4 separate regions of the Homo sapiens genome follow, and all the other regions are linked to region 1. The links come from fine-mapping of genetic effects on gene expression. A gene starts in region 1. Each other region holds a variant in brackets. All regions are shown on one strand. Distances are from middle to middle. Region 1 holds the start of LRP8 (LDL receptor related protein 8). Region 2 overlaps LRP8 (LDL receptor related protein 8). Region 3 overlaps LRP8 (LDL receptor related protein 8). Region 4 has its middle 39 kb from the start of DMRTB1.

Evidence for each region. PIP is the estimated chance that this variant, and not a neighbour inherited with it, causes the effect.
Region 2: its variant is fine-mapped to the expression of LRP8 in lung (TOPMed, PIP above 0.99). The same link has a PIP of 0.9 or more in thyroid.
Region 3: its variant is fine-mapped to the expression of LRP8 in breast (GTEx, PIP 0.98).
Region 4: its variant is fine-mapped to the expression of LRP8 in monocytes after LPS (Quach 2016, PIP 0.95).

Annotation. Positions count from the first base shown.
Region 1 is chr1:53,326,587-53,329,214 of GRCh38, forward strand. LRP8 (LDL receptor related protein 8) reads right to left here and starts at 1,484. Exons shown (of 19, transcript NM_004631.5): 1 at 1,203-1,484; 2 at 287-406. The coding sequence starts at 1,326. LRP8-DT (LRP8 divergent transcript) reads left to right here and starts at 1,647. Exons shown (of 3, transcript NR_131923.1): 1 at 1,647-1,789. RefSeq lists silencers at 91-150, 171-465, 981-1,150, 1,201-1,350, 1,421-1,620 and enhancers at 531-640, 1,691-1,920.
Region 2 is chr1:53,304,638-53,307,137 of GRCh38, forward strand. The region is part of intron 2 of LRP8 (LDL receptor related protein 8); the gene reads right to left. The region is part of intron 4 of LOC105378726 (a long non-coding RNA gene); the gene reads left to right. Among named protein-coding and RNA genes, the nearest start is that of LRP8, 22 kb to the right of the region's middle. The variant C/T (reference allele first, on the strand shown) is at 1,255.
Region 3 is chr1:53,291,744-53,294,498 of GRCh38, forward strand. The region is part of intron 2 of LRP8 (LDL receptor related protein 8); the gene reads right to left. It overlaps LOC105378726 (a long non-coding RNA gene), which reads left to right. Exons shown (of 6, transcript XR_007066090.1): 3 at 1-2,755. Among named protein-coding and RNA genes, the nearest start is that of LRP8, 35 kb to the right of the region's middle. The variant G/A (reference allele first, on the strand shown) is at 1,657.
Region 4 is chr1:53,496,559-53,499,313 of GRCh38, forward strand. No RefSeq gene overlaps it. Among named protein-coding and RNA genes, the nearest start is that of DMRTB1, 39 kb to the left of the region's middle. The variant CT/C (reference allele first, on the strand shown) is at 1,674.

The DNA of each region.
Region 1 (2,628 bases):
TCCGGTTCAGTCTCCCCAGCATGGTGCGCCTTCCTCCTCCGGCACACTGCCCGGGGCTCCGCCCCGGCCCCACCAGGACACGCCAGCTTTCCTGCCCGCTCCGGGTCGCTAAGAGCCACCCGGCCCCGAGGGAGGCGGTGCCCAGGCGGTTTCCCGGTCGCAGGCTCCGGCGGCAAGTCCCGCGCAGGTGGCAGCGCGGCGGCTGCAGCCACGTGCGCGCCAAGCATGGTGCCCCCCACCGTTCCTTTTCTCTCCCCGGGTCTGAGCTCCCTGGCCCGCCACTCACGGCAGTCGTCCTCGTCGCTGTGGTCTAAGCAGTCATCGTCCTCGTCGCATCTCCACACAGAGGGGATGCAGCGCTCGTTCCGGCACTGGAATTGGTCCTTTTCGCAATCCTTGGCCGGCCCTGCGAGGGGGAGGGAGCGTGAGCTGGATCAGCGGACTCGGCCCCACTCCCCACCATGCAGTCCGGGCCACCCGGAAGGACCCGCTGGGGAGGAGGAAAGGGGGCGATTATGGAGACCCCGGGGGCTTCAGGCACACTCCATCCAAAGGGAGGGCACGATGGCAGGGGTTCCGTGGATGTCGGGCCGCTCGGTGGCACGGCGAGACCAGGCACCTACTTAAAGTGTCACACGACCTGGGTATACCCTCCATTCAGACGCACTCACCCGCACACGCGACCCATAGTCAGAGATCTGCTCAGATACAGCCCATAGGGAGTCCCCGCGCCCGCGCGCCAGGCGCAGTGGGAGCCGCAGGCACATCACCCTGGCAGGCAGCCCCCTCTCTCTCCGCCGCGCGCAGGGGTCTGCGGAAACGCATTGTCAAGCGGAGAAGCCGCCCGGCTCTGCTCATTACCGCCGCGGAGCGCGCGTGTCAAATAAACCCCAACGGCGAGAATCACACAGCTCATCCGGAACCATGAATGGCCGCCCCTCCGGCAAAGTTCCCCGCTGGCCAAGCCCCCCTGCACCCCTCCCCCAAGATCCGCTGCCCAGAGGGCAGAGCCCTCAACACCGAGGCCCGCGGGGGCGGGGGGCCGAGGGCAAATTCAGGAATAGCCGCTTCGCGTGGAGCCTGTCCGCCCGGGAGCCCCCGATAGCCCCGGGTTCTGGACCCCTCCCCGCTCCGGCCTCCCGGCCGCGCTTTGTTGGTGGCTAGGGCGGAGCAGAGCCGAGTCAGAGACCGGCTGCACGCACCTTGGCCGCCGAGCAGCGGATCAGCCGCTGCCGCCGCAAGATGCTGGAGCTGCAGCAGCAGCAGCAGCAGCAGCAGCAGCAGCAGCGCCAGAAGCCGGAGAGGGCCCGGCTCGGGGAGGCCCATGGCGGGCCCGGGGCTCCGGCCGCCGCGCCCCGCGCTCCCCGCGCCGCCGCCGCCGCGTCTCAGCCCTCCGAGTCCTTGCCGCGGCGCCGGGGTTGCCGCTGCCCCCGCCGCCGCCGCCGCCGCCGCTGCCGCCCGCCCCGGCTCCTCGGCTGCATTTCAAGCAGGTTCGGTGACGCTCGGCGGCGGGGCGGGCTCAGGCTGGGCGCGCGGCCCCGGCCCTGGGCGGCCGCCGCCAGCGCGCGCGCTCCCTCCCGCTGCCGCCTCCGCCCCACGCTCCCCCTGCCGCCGCCTCCTCGCCCTCCTCCCTCCTGTCTTTCGTCCACTCTTCTCTCAGCGGGCGCTCCACGGCCCTGCTCTGGGCTCGCCTGAGTGCTGGGCTCTGCAGACGCAGGGATGGGCCAGGCGAGCCCCTCACCACGGAGGTAGCAGGTCCAGAGGAAGCAGCAGAGGCTTCCTGGAGGAGGTGACAGGCGGATCAGAGGCTGAGGGATGTCTAGGAGTGAGCCTGGGCGGGAGGGGAAATGATGTTACAGGACGAACAGGCCTGTGCAGTGTGCGCGTGGGGCGGGGGAGGGAGGGATAGGGGTGAGATCCCAAGATGTGGATGAGCAGGGAGAAGCTGGGGGCGCAGGGCTGGACCCCTGCACCTGTCATGGGCTCCGGCTGGGATATTATAAATCCCTGTGGCTGGTTTGGTTTCCGTGCCATGTGCATCTGTGCATGTTGCACGCTCATGTGATCATGGGGACGTGAGGCAGGTGGATTGGGCCTGGTGCACAGACTATTCATCGTCGTTAAGTACGCTCCAGGCCCCTAGTCAGAGGGGCAACCAGGGGGGGCCCGCAGGGAAGACAAGGAATCCTCGCTGTGATGGAGAAAGACGAGGTCTGTGGGGCGGGCCGGGCGGGGGGGAAGGGGAGGGCACGGAAGGGATGCCATCCCTGCCGCTAGGGGCCGCGCACCTAGGCCCGCGCTGTCCGCCCCTGCTGTCTTCTGCAGGAAGGAGAAGGCACCTCTTCCTCTGGAGGGCTGCAGCCCGCCTCACCCACACTGGGGAGAATGGGTGCGGAGAGCGAGCTGGGATTCGATTTCAGCCTCAGACTTGTGAGCCGGGTCCAACCCACACAACCTTCTTTAGAGAATGAGATTCCAGGGCATTGGCCACTCAAAACAACCGGCCTGCAGGTGCCAAGAGCCAGTGTTAGGTCCACCCTCCCTCCCCTCTTGCCCCTTCACCTCCCTCGCGGATGGGCAGGTGCTGTTAGCCCTTGGCCTGGAAACCACCCTGTCTCCTCAGCAGCC
Region 2 (2,500 bases), 22 kb before region 1:
GAGGTGGCCATGTCTCCAGGTGTTGGTTCTGGCAGGGCCGGGGTTCAGGGCTCTGGCCGGGACCACCCACCCATCTGAGGCCAGCCCCAGGGCCAGCAGTATGGGGATGGTTCATGGCCACAAGCCCCAGCTCAGCACCTCCAACCAGAGCTGGGCAGAAGGGGACAGACATGGCTGTGGGAGGCAAGAAGAGGAAAGGTGTGGGGTCATGTGCCCAGCAAACCCTCACCGCCCACTGGCATCCTGGCCCAGACCTCAGCCACACCGGCCACTTCTCAGAGCCCCTTACAGAGGGGTGCCCATCAGCCTAGGGGTTCTGAGCCAGCATGGCTCCCCCAGTAAGACAGGTCCCACTACAGCTTGAAGAGGAAGCCACTTTTAAACAGCCTGCCCAGTGAGCACTGCTGGCTGCCTGAAGATGATTCCACTCACCTTGGTTTTTCCTGCAAGTGAACCTTCCTCCCAGAACTAAGGTTTGGAAGATCCCAGTCTGCTGCCTGACATGGCCATTCTCCCACAAAAACAGGTGAAGGAACGCAGGACTCAAATCACGCCTTTGTCCCTTACTAGCTAAGCGACCTCAGGCAGGCTACCTGACCGCTCTGAGCCCATGTTTCCTCATTTAAAAATGTGGTGGTAGATCCTGACTCGGAGGGCAGTTGGTTGCTAGATCACGTCTATCAGTGCCCGACATAAGGGATGGCACACAGAAAATATTCAGTGACCGAAGTTCCTCCTCCCTTTATCCCAGCCGCTGTGGCAGCCCCACCACCAGGCTTTGTACACAGTGAGTCCTTAAGAGGTTTTTGTTGCAATTTTTAAAGGGCATCTGGAGGCCTAGCCTCTGTCATCCTGGGCCACCTGGTTCTTCTGTGACTTGTTTTCTCCATGTATAAAGTAGAAGGCCTGTTCCTTGGAGAAAAAGGTCAAGGCGGGTGGAATTATTACCTGGCAGCCAGCGGGGCTCACAGTGCAGGCTACTTCAGAAGCCTCGTCCCTGGCTAACACCACAATGGTTATAACGCCAAGCGGGGCAGCTGAGACTGGCCCACCTGGACACACAGGCAATGAGTGGAGGTCACAGGAGGTCTGGCCACCAGCTTCCCTGCACCTCCACCCCTGCCCCCACACTAGTCTCTCCTCAGCCCCACAGGGAGCCAGGGGCCTCTAGAATGGCCTCTCCTCCACCCACGTGCATGGGCCCTGGCACAGGAGAGGCGCTGAGGAGGAAGCTGGAAGGCACCCAGCCACCCA[C/T]TCCAGGGTGAACGGTGAGCCTGCCCAAGCATGAGCTCTTATGAGGCCCAGACTGCCAGGGGGCCAGGGTGTCTGAGGCGCACACATTCCTCACTCTCTGGGAGTTGGGAGTGGAGGACCCTCCTCCCCTTCTCTATTCTATTGGGAAGCTTTCCACGACCCCATGTGGGATCAGAGACCTCTTCTGATCCACAGCCTCATCATCCTGTGTTGGTGGCACTCAACCATCTTTCTCTACCAGACTAGCAGCTCGGTGGAGGCAGGCACTGAGGAAGCGTGTGCTGAAGGCATCGCATGCAGGCAATCTGGAAGCCTGGGGCTTTTCCATCTATACAGAATGTACAGCCCAGGACACAAACCCTATTTACCCTCCAGCATTCTGCATACCTAGGAAAAGCAGTAATCATTGAAGCCTTGCTTCAGATCCTCCATTCATGCAGGAAGTGGGGCTCTGGTCTGTTCTAGTGCTGTCTAGCTGGGTGGCACTCCCACATCCTTTTCTCCAGGCATGTGAACTAGCTCTTGTGTCCTCTTTCTCTTGCCAAAGACAGTGGTATGGTACCAAGGAGAACAGAGCCAGGGGCCAGGAGGCCTGGGTTTTGGTCCCAGCTCTACCCCCCGAGCTGCTGCGTGGCTTTGAGTAAGCCACTCCCCCTCTCTGGGCCTCAGCGTCAACACCAGTTGAGGGGTTGGATCCCACTGCTCCCTGGGTCTGTTCCTGCTTTACTTCACTGCCATGAGCCATGTGTCTGGGGCTGGAGTTGGAGGAGAGTGCTGGCACCAGGCAGATGGTTCTGAGGACAGGTTCAGAGTCTGCAAGGCTGGGAGGGCACCTGCCTCTGTCCTGGGTCCCACCTCCTGGCCTGCTCCTCAGGAAACCCTGGGACACATGAACTTGGGCCTCAGCTTTGGCTCTGATCGTATTGTGATGCCATCTCTGGGCCAGGCCCTCATCTGTCTACATCACCTCACCTCATCTCCTGGTTTACGAAGCCCTTTGTATATGTCTCCTCATTTAGTTCTTACAATCACCCCTGAGGTTCAGAGAGGGACAGGATGGGCCCAGGTCACACAGCAGTCAGAGGACTATCAGGCCCAGCATTCTCCAGCAGCCCTGATATCTCCTCCTTGAAACAGGAAGAACACAGGATGTGCAGTGGGAATCCTGACCTTGCCCCCTGAGCAATACTGAGTAGGGGGGGTGGTACTCTCTCAGAACCACTTTGAGCCACCATGAAAATCTAAC
Region 3 (2,755 bases), 35 kb before region 1:
TGGGGCAGAAGCAGTCAGAGACATTAGATAAATGAGTGAGCATGGTTATGTTTCAATAAAACTTTATTTACAAAAAACTGGTGACAGGCCAGGCCTGTGGCCTGTATTTTGATGACCTCTGCTCTAGATCATCACTGATTGCGAGTCCAACATGGTTTGCTTTCTTCCCTGTCCCTGCAGCACAGAGACTGTCAAATTCAGCAAGAATCCAGCTTGGGGTAGGTCTCAGTGCGGGACACTGAGCTAAATGCGAGCACAGCCCCCCAGCCTCTGCTCCATACTTACAGTTCTGGGGCTTGCCTTCTCCCTGGGAAGCCACTCCCATGGACCACCTTTATTCAAATCTACCCACAGGCCCTCTGGGTGCTTCTGGGGCTGCAGGCCTGCTCCCCCTCCTCTGGGGAGCCTGGCAAGGATTTGGTGAGAGAGACTGTGTCTCTGAATCTGTTCCATGTCTGTCCTTCTCAGTGGAATCTTTGCAGTACATCTGCATTCTAAGATGAGTTTTCTTCACACTTTGCTTAGAAGAATGCCTCTGTACGTGCAGAACTAGAAGAAACCTGAGGAATCAGAGTCCACCTTCAGATGGGTAGATTGAGGCCCAGAAAGGGAAAGGGGCTGGCTGAGGGAAATACAGCATGGCAGGGATAAGAACAGCTCTCCTGCCTCTCAGCCCAGGGCTCTGGAGAGGCCCTCCCTGTTTCCTGCACTGAGAGGTCATCGTCAATGATAGATGCGAATACCACCTATTGGTAAATCATAGTCCATAATCATCTTAAAGTAAGTACCAATATGAACCACAGCACCTGGGGAATTTCCTAATGTGAACACCAGTGGTTTTCCCCCCACAAGAAGCTCAGCATCCAAAAAAAGAAACGTATATCCTAGTTTTCTCTTTTTCTCGTTCTAACACTCACTAGGTGCTTCCTCTGTGCCAGTCTCTGCCAGGTGTTTTTACCCAAGAAACCTCATGGCAGGGGGCCTGCTATGTACTCATTTGACATATGAGGAAATCCAGACCCAGAGATGTTAAGTTACATGTCCAAGGTCACAGCTGGGGGGAGCAGGGTCACAGTCTGAACCCACAGTCAGATGCCTGCTCATCTCCACCACGGCTCCCCAGTCAAACATTCAGCAGTACCAAATGTGGAAGAAAAACCTTACAGCAGGTGGGAAAGCCCTGTGCAAGCTTCAGTTCCACATTCAATGAACCTTGCTTCTGTTCTACGTTCTGCACTGAGAACACAGAATCAGCCCAGCCCAGTCTCTGGGAATTAAGAGCAAGTAGGCAAGTCTGGCAAGGATGTGTGGTCAGACAGTGCCCAAAACAGCAGGGCAGGCTTGAAGAAGGTGATGATGGGGCTCTGTTGCTGGGCACAGGACAACCAGATACCCCCCAAAAACCCTGCCCTCCCTGGGATTCTGAAAGCCTGGGGGTGATCTTGTCCTCCTCCATGTGCCAAGCCCTGGCAGGCACTGGGCAAGGAGGCCAGAGCAGCCAAAAACACCACTGCTGTCCCAAAGGGCAGCTTTGAGGTCAGCCCCGCCCAGGAAATGGCAGCTGCAGGGAGAGTGGTGTTTTTGGCAACAGATTCGGTGGTGTTTTTGGGAACAGATTTGTTCACTGGCTGGACCAGCTTGGAGATTTTCCACTCT[G/A]GCTCTGGCCTGGCACCTTTCACCCAATATCCCAGTGACTCCTCACAGCTATCTTGGTAGCTGTTGTTATTAATCCCATTGTACAGAAGAGGAAATTAAGGCTTAGAGGTAAGGGTGTTAGGTGGCAGAAGTGTGATTTCAACTGTGTGTGGCAGCTGCCAAAGCTTGATCTCTTTCCACTCAGACCCTCAGCCACCTCAGTGTTACCAGGCTAAGAATGAGGACCCCAGAGAGTCCTCAAATGTACTGAAACATCTCTCAGGTCTCCTGGAATGTGCCCAGAAGTGTGCAGCAGAATAAACCCAGGCCTGGGACGGCTTTTGCTCTGCTAATGGACAGCACTTTCAGGGTGGGGACTAGACTAAAGCACGCTGGAGGGCCCCATTGGAAGTGTGACCATATGGAAGGATCTGGAGTCAGAGTGGAGACTGACTCCTGGCATAGCCACCTCGGGGTGAACCTGGGCAAGTGGGGATGTGGCTTTCCCATGCAGCTTTGTCACAAGGACAAAAGGCAAAAAGACTCTTCTGGGGGATCCTGGTGAACACCCAGTGTCAGGCCGTTCAGTGCAATGAGCCCAATAGTCCCTCGTGAAGAGACCATATCAGCCCTGCCATGAGATGAGGGCTGTGCCGCCATTCTAAGGCTGTCAGAGAAAGCCATGCCAGACCCCTACTCTGCTGGCCTTGGCTCTGGTTCCCAGGGTGATTCCCCAGCTGGGCTCAAGGCCATGGCTCCCTGTTTCCAGGGATTTATGTCCCCCCATGCCAGTCTGCCCCTTGGACAATGCCCACCTCTGTGAGTCCCTCAGCCCAGGAGTGATACATAGTCAACCAGGGTCTGCGACATCATAATCTGGTGCCATGGCAACAGATGGGCTGCCACAAAGGACTAGGGGATTCTAGGGGCAGTGAGGAGGGGCTGACCCCAGGGTAGAGTAGGGGAGAGTGGGAAATCCAGGACAAAGGAAGTGGGAAATGCTATTTATAACAAGAACACGGGCCAAGGAAAGTGCCAGACAGTCCATGGTCTATCAAACTGCGCCCTGCCACTTGTAGGCTATGTGACCTTACACAAGTTACAGGACTCCTGTGAGCCG
Region 4 (2,755 bases), 170 kb after region 1:
AAGGTGGAGGAAGCAGGACTCGAAGAGGCAGCTTGTTCCAGGAGAAGGGAGAGCAATCTTTGGGCCCTGCAGACCTGGTCTGGCACTCTGAGCCTAGATTCCCTCTCTCTCTCTCTCTCTCTCGTTTAAAGAGTGAATGAGTTAACATATGTCAAGTGGTTGGCACATGGAGGGGCTCAAAAAAATTCCTGTTGTCATGAGCAAGACCTGGAAGTTGGGGAGACCAAGGGAGGTTCTTGGCCAATGGATGAGGGTAGGCAGCATGGACTGTAGAAGGTCTCTTGACCTTGGAGTGATGGCTTTGCCTTCGGGCAGCCTAGGCCCATCAGCTGGCAGGGTCACATTCTGTCTCTGTTTCTGGCAACAGCAGGATTTTCCCTCCCTAATTATCAACCTACTTGGGGAGATGCTAAAAGTAATGCCCATTCCTGGACATATGTCCAATTGTCAAGAGGGCACTGTGGAATTAACTATTTCGTTAGCACATTAAGTGCACAGAGAGAAATTAAGAAAAAAGACAGAGATTTGCAGGCTATGGGAAGGGAGGCCATGTTGGGGGCACTTCTGGGTGCTCAGCCCTGAAACACGCTTGCAGGAGCCTACCTTGTTGAATGGGTGTAAGAAGACCTGGAGCAGCCTCCGACTCTTCTTAAAACACAGTGGAGTATGACAAATTGCTCAACTGCTGAATCGACAGATGGAGACTTCTTCCCCTCTCCCACTCTGTCCGTGGCTCTCCAAGGTCACCAAATGCTGCCACTCCTGGTTTCTCATGTCCTCTTCAACACAACATCATAGTTTTCCATTTCTCAGTTGAAGACACTGAAGCCCAAAGAGGGCATGCGACTTGTCTAAGGCTGCACAGCCAGAATTTTTTTTTTTTTTTTTTTTTTTTTAATGAGACAGGGTCTCCACTCTCAGGCTGGATTGCAGTGGTGCAATCACAGCTCACTCACTGCAGCCTTGACTTCCCAGGCTCATGTGATCCTCTCACCTCAGCTTCCTGAGTAGCTGGGACTATAGGCATGCACCACCACATCCAGCTAGTTTTTGGATTTTTGGTAGAGATGGGGTTTCACCATGTTGCTCAGGCTTATCTCAAACTCCTGGGCTCAAGCCATCCACTTGCCTTGGCCTTCCAAAGTGCTGGGATTACAGGCATGAGCCACCACGCCCTGCCTCCAGAGCCAGAATTTGAATCAAGGTACAAGGCCCTGGGTAGACAAGCTGGGATGTGCTGACTAGTGAGGCCTCTGCCCAAGACAGCATGGGGTGGTTTGAGCACTGCCCTGGGTGTCCTGAGACCAGACCCACCACCAAATGGCCATGTGTCCCCAGCAAGTCAGGCCATCTCCCCGGGACTGTTTCCCCACTTGTACCATGGAACTTGATTTCAAATCATGAGGAGAATGCTTAGGGCACTCATCTAAATGGGCAGTCCTCGAACGAAAATACTCACACCTGAGCACCTACTATGTACCAAGCCCTCACTCTAGCGCCCCATTTGATCCACCCACCAATAGAGGAGGCATCGTCTCATCTTACAGAGTAGAACCTCAGATTCAGTGAGGTGACCTGCTCAAGACCCCAGTCGGAGCATGGCTGCGTGGGTTTTGGAACTCAGATTTTGGGAACTCTGGAATCCCTGCTGTCAACACTCTGGGCCTCACCAT[CT/C]TTTTTTTTTTTTTTTTTTTTTTTTTTAGACAGTCTTGTTCTGTTGCCCAGGCTGGAGTGCAGTGGCTTTATCTCAGCTCACTGCAACCTCCCCCTCACAGGTTCAAGCGATTCTCATGCCTCAGTCTCCTGAGTAGCTGGGACTACAGGCATGTGCCACCATGCCCGGCTAATTGTTTTTTGTAGTTTTAGTAGATGGGGTTTCGAGATGTTGCCCAAGCTGGTCTCGAACCCCTGAGCTCAGGCAATCCACCCTCCTCGGCCTCCCAAAGTGCTAGGATTACAGATGTGAGCCACCTTGCCCAGCCTGGGTCTCACCATCTTTTGAGAGCCACCAGCTCCCTGACCCTGAGTTTCCCCATCAGTAATAGAGCAGTGTGTGCCTGTTGCACTCCGGACACCTGGGCACAGAGCCCCCAGGAAACCCCAGGCCCCGTGGAGATGGCTGCAGCACAGCCTGTGTCTTGCTTGGCGAGGGACGGTGTCTGGGCCCCGTGGAGCCTGTGTTCCTGGCATTCTGCCCTGCATGGGGCTTAGTGACTGCCCCCTGGGGCTGCTCTCCACCTCCCACCCTTTCCTTCCTAGCTGGAGACCCCCACTCACTTCTCCACTGGGGGCTCAGGCTCCAGCTCCTCACCCCGGGCCCCACCTTGAGTTGCTCCCCGTCTAGTGGCTGTGGTTTCACTGACACAGAGGAAACCACAGATGAAGGCGAAGTGCCAGGCTCCAGTGATAATACCAGCTCAGCTGCACATGGCCTTTCATGGTTTGCAAAACCCATCTCCTGTCCATTAGTGCTTTTTATTCCCCAGAAGCCAGGAGAGCTAAGAGGATAGCTCCCTCTCCACAGATGGGGAAACCAAGGCCCAGAGTGTGAAGCGACTTTCCTCCAGTCAGTGGTATAGGCAGATTGTAAACAGGCTGACTTCCAATCCCAGGGTCTCAGCTCAACTTGGCATGTGCCTCTCACCTCAGGAGTTTGGGGACAGCAAAGTTCTGGGGCTCAGAGGGTGGCCAAGGGCATGGGCTTTGCAGTTGAGAGGACGTGAGTTCAAAACCTGGCTCAGTGTGATCTGGGGTA